Linked DNA regions of Homo sapiens: region 2 is linked to region 1. Evidence: fine-mapped expression QTL. Tissue or cell type: naive CD4 T cells. Region 1 holds a variant in brackets; the other region holds the start of a gene. All regions are shown on one strand. Distances are between the middles of the regions.

The links. PIP is the estimated chance that this variant, and not a neighbour inherited with it, causes the effect.
Region 2: it holds the start of MAPK14, and the variant in region 1 is fine-mapped to the expression of MAPK14 in naive CD4 T cells (Schmiedel 2018, PIP 0.93).

Annotation. Positions count from the first base shown.
Region 1 is chr6:36,114,551-36,117,306 of GRCh38, reverse strand. It overlaps a transcript of MAPK14 not described here. Among named protein-coding and RNA genes, the nearest start is that of MAPK13, 15 kb to the left of the region's middle. RefSeq lists an enhancer at 1,990-2,069. The variant T/A (reference allele first, on the strand shown) is at 1,274.
Region 2 is chr6:36,026,729-36,029,228 of GRCh38, reverse strand. It overlaps MAPK14 (mitogen-activated protein kinase 14), which reads right to left and starts at 1,421. Exons shown (of 12, transcript NM_139012.3): 1 at 956-1,421. The coding sequence starts at 1,071. RefSeq lists a silencer at 1,081-1,180 and an enhancer at 1,371-1,810.

The sequences.
Region 1 (2,756 bases):
CCAGAGGGAAGCATGCTCATCTTCTAGGACATACAAAGCGAGTGCTGGCTTGAGCCCTTTTGGCTGAAAGAGGGAAAAGGTAGTTTCTCTTCAGAGGCCTGGAGGTGCATTTCTATCCCAGATGAGTAGAGAAGCGAGGGCAAGGGGCCTGGAACTAGGGAGAGAGACCCAGTGTGTGCTGAACAAGATAAGGCACCAGTGCCTGGCTGTGGCTGCCAGGGACTCCTCCCCAATTTGGCCAGCAGCAGCCAGGGAGTCCTTATGGAAATTATGCTGAATTAATTTTTTTAAATTTTCTTTAAAAAAACCAAAAGAGGATTGTCTAACACCAATGCTATAAAACTCTTTGGAACCAGGAGTCTTTCAACGTTGATATCAGGATAGTCTGTTGAATCTAGCCTCAGTTGTAACGTGACTGAGAAAGAGACATTACTTGTATAGAATATGCAAGAATGTAAATTGCCTAACATACAGTAGCAGTTCATTAAAAGAACTACTTTTTAGTAGGGAGGTAAGGAAAGTAGGGGGAAGGAGGTGAAGGAAGGAAGGAAGACCATAGGGAGCCAGGTCTGTCCTGCATTGTGGAGGTTTCACTTCTTAGGACTCCAGGTGTCCCAGAGTCATTTGATCTGTCAGCAGTTCTCAGCGGGTGCACTGAAATCTCTGGGGCCATTTTTGGTTATCATACTGATCAGGAGTATTACTGATATGAGCATGCACGGGCCACTGTGCAGAGTGGGATTCTTAACAAGAATTGCTTCACATTACAAACATCCTGCTGGACATTCATGAAGGTGGAAAAAACTATTTATGATTATCTGAGCCTAGACTGTAACTTGGTTTTACATATCAAACAAATACTTTTCTGCATATTAATATACTTACATTTCCCAGGATCACAACTGAGTAAATAAAAAAGTTCTCCAGGCTGGGCAACAGACTGAGACCCTGTCCAAAAAAAAAAAAAGATTCTAATTGTTTGTTTGAAATTTTTACCAAGAGTTGCTTACCACTTTCAGAAAAATCATGACTGACAGCAGTCAGCCATGGTATCTGAGTTGTCAAGACAACACAACTGTATCAGTACGCATTTGGAGCTGTCATATTCAAGGTGATTCTATGTATAGGTACAAGCATCTAACTACTTCATTATTTCTTTTATGTAGCTATGCCTGAGAATTTACTTTTTATTTTTTTTTAGACAGGGTCTCACTCTGTCACCCAGGCTGGAGTGCAGTGGAATGATCATGGCTCACTGCAGCCTCAACCTCCA[T/A]GGCTTAAGCAATCTTCCTGCCTCAGCCTCCTCAGTAGCTGGGACTACAGGTGTGTGCCACCATGCCCAGATAACTTTTTATTTTTTCATTTTTTTTTTTTTTTTTGAGACGGAGTCTCCCTCTGTTGCCCAGGCTGGAGTGCAGTGGCATGATCTCAGCTTACTGCAAGATCCACCTCCCAGGTTCAAGCAATTTTCCCGCCTCAGCCTCCTGAGTAGCTGGGACCCAGGTGGGTGCCACCACAGCTGACTAATTTTTCTATCTTGTACTAATTTCGTATTTTTAGTAGAGATGGGGTTTCACCATGTTGGCCAGGATGGCGAGTGATCCACTTGCCTCAGCCTCCCAAAGTGCTGTGATTACAGGTGTAAGCCACTGCGCCCCGCCCCAGTTAACGTTTTAAAAATTTTCTGTAGAGACGGGTTTCTCCATGTTGGCCAGGCTCATCCTAAACTCCTGACCTCAAGTGTTCTGCCCGCCTCAGCCTCCCAAAGTGCCGGGATTACAGGTGCGAGCCACCATGCCCAGCCAGCACTTATATATGGAAATGTATTCGTATTTTTCCTTTGTCATTTATATTGGATCATTATATTTTCTTTGAAATTGTGTGAATTATCTATGAATTTCACCTCAGCATTATAAAAGAGGTATTATAAAATATTAGTTATGCAAAGGGTAATAGATCTGACAAGAGTTTAGAACCACTGGTTTTTGTTAAGAATCTAGGCTGGGTCTGTGGTTTTACACCTTCTTCTTTTCTGCTGCAACTGACACTCAAATGGTGGTGGCAGTTTCTATTTTTAGTTGCAAACTGAAGGTTACTTCCTTATTTAACTTATAATAACTTCTAAACAAAGCACCTTCCTTAAATTGAACTACTCAAATAACTCTGCAATATAACATTATCCCACTGGCTATGCGTACTTAGACCACAGCCTATGGCTTCAATAATGGGTTTTCCAGAAACTGCCTCAGGACCATTTGTCCTCAGAAGCTCTCTCCCCAGTTGGCTTTAGAGACACACACTGTTCCCAGATGCAGAAGGCTGCAAACTCCCCCTAACAAGACAGCCTCGATGCCCCCTGTCAACTCGTGAGATGCAGACTAACCAGTATCTTGAGTGTCGACAACACACCAGGCACATTGAGATTTGTTATTTCCTTACTGGTCTAAGAAAATCTTGTAGTCATACCCCCAGTTTAATTACCAGATTTTCTGCCTGTGGATAATGGCAAAGAACTTCTGAACAAAGGATAACTTAATTTACTCAACCTACTGTTTTTTTTTAAGAAATGAAATGACCTTTATTCAGTACCAAACATATTTCCCCTAAAAATATGTATTTGAGTCTAAAAAGGCCTTTCCAATTTGTACTTTTCCTCCAAGATGCCAAGCTACTTTTTTTTTTTTTTTTTAAACAGAGTTCCACTCTTGTTGCCCAGGCTGGAGTGCTGCGGTGTCATCTTGGCTCACTGCAACCTC
Region 2 (2,500 bases), 88 kb after region 1:
GCAAGCTCTCTAAGGGACTTTTAAAACACAGTATTCGCAGGAATTATCTCAAAAAATATTTACAATACCTCCCAGCACTGTTAATAACTTTTTGATCTTGAGGGCGCCTTACAGATCTGAATCTTTCTTGCTCCAAATGAGAAAATTGTTTTGTCGAACAATACTTAAATGAGCAGTGGTATGTGACTAATCAGTGAGCCTGCCAGTTTCTCAAGCTGCAGTGTTCTTGCAGGCACTACCACCGCCGCCCCTCCACGGAAAGGAAATACGCTTTCAACCGAATCGGAAACACACCACTCAAGCTGGCACAGTGCTCACCGAGATAAAGTCGGTATTTTAAGCTCTATGGATCGCTGTTAATTCAAGTGCGAATTCAAAAAGAACGCTTTTCAAGATGGGATTTCGACAGAGTTTTGAAAAAAAAAAAAAAAAAAAAAGGCCCGGAGAGAGCTCCCTTCCTGGTCAGTTTTGTTCAGATGACCGCAGTCTTCGGGTTGGGCTGTGCCCTTCTGCTTCTCCCGGCAGTTCCCCGAGCTTGTCTGCTCAGAGGACCCAGGGTCCGGAGCCCCAGCGTGGGCGCATCACGGGAGAGGGTCCTTCTGCTCCAGGTAGGCAGGGAGACCCCCAAGGAAGCGGCCCTTCCCCCGGTGCCTGTTGCCGAGCAGCAACCCTCCGAGAGGGGAAGGCGCAGGGTGCTAGCCAGAACCGAGCTCCAGCACCACCACCTACCTCTCGCAGCGGACCTGAGTGCTGCACACGGTGGACCGCATACCTGCGTGAGTGCAGGGCGAGGGGTGCTGGAGGTGCAGAACGGGCAGAGCTCGAAGGGGCAGCAATGCCCTCCCCCGAGGAAAATTCCTGCCACTTGACGCAACGCTGAGCAGTGGAGCAGGCCTGGCCCTCGGGCGCGAGGGGCCACCCTGCCCACAGCGGCCCCAGGCCCAGCGACACTCACCACACAGAGCCATAGGCGCCAGAGCCCACTGGAGACAGGTTCTGGTAACGCTCGGGCACCTCCCAGATTGTCTTGTTCAGCTCCTGCCGGTAGAACGTGGGCCTCTCCTGAGACATTTTCCAGCGGCAGCCGCCGGGCAAGAAGGTGGCCCTGTGGGGCCCCCGCCTGCACCCGCACCCTCTCCCCGGCCCTTGCTGCCCGCCCAGCCGGGCGGGGACCTTGCGCTGGTCGCCCGCGCAGGTGCGGCTGCCGCGACCCCGCAGACTCCCGCGCGCGCGGCTGCTGTCAGCCGCAGCGGCTGGATGTGCCCCTGCGACTGGGGCAAGCCCCGCTAAGGGCAGGGACGCGCTCCGGCGCTCAAGACTGCGCCCGCCGCGATCTCCCTGCACCTTCGCCCCTACAAGGCCGACTCCGGGCTGCGTCGCAGTACTCCCGTTCCAGCTGCTGCGCCCGCTAAGGCTCCAGTGGTCGCGGTTCCAAGAGCCAGCAAACGGGAGCCTCCCGCAGTACTCTCGCGAGAACAGCTCCCGGGACTCTCCGAGAGCCGAGATTTTACCCAATATGGAACCTCTCCGCGGGCGGGGCTTCGTGAGAGAAGAGGATGGGAGGAGCAGTTCTCGCGAGAAGAGAACAATAACTGGAGACCAAAGGCAGAAACTCCCAGGGACTGTCTCCTTAAGGGCGCGAAGGCGGACCGGGGAAGGAAGAGAGAAGCTGGCAGCACACGCCTCGCGCGCCTCACCGTGGCCGGCGGGGCAAATACCTGGCTCTGTGGTGGAAAACGACACTGACAAATAGCGTGTCGGGGAAAGAGTCAAAAGATCTTTAACTGCGAGTAGTTACCAGCAGCAGAGCACCTGCTCACCTGAACCCCCAAATTCCAAAAAACACTTGCATAAAAAAGAGACAAGTGGCCGGGCGTGGTGGCTCACGCCTGTAATCCCAGCACTTTGGGAGGCCGAGGCGGGCGGATCACCTGAGGTCGGGAGTTCGAGACCAGCCTGACCAACATGGAGAAACCCCGTCTCTACTAAAAATGCAAAATTAACCGGGCGTAGTGGCGCGCACCTGGAGTCTTAGCTATTCGGGAGGCTGAGGCAGGAGAATCGCTTGAACCCGGGAGGCGGAGTTGCGGTGAGCCGAGATCGTGCCATTACACTCCAGCCTGGGCAACAAGAGCGAAACTCCGTCTCAAAAGAAAGAAAGAAAGAAAGAGACAGGTTCCGGCCAGAAGGCTGTTGCATTCCCATCTGCTCAAGGACATATGGGTTACTCTTTGAGATGCTGACGAAATATGTCCCAAAGGCAAATGTTAACCCTGCATCAAAGCTGAGGCTTTCCAGGGGCTGGGCTCAGTGGCTCACACCTGTTATCCCAGCACTTTGGGAGGCCGAGGCGGGTGGATCACGAGGTCAAGCGATAGAGACCATCCTGGCCAACATGGTGAAACCTCGTCTCTACTAAAAAAAATACAAAAATTAGCTGGGCGTGGTGGCACGACCCTGTAGTCCCAGCTTCTCGGGAGGCTGAGGCAGGAGAATTGCA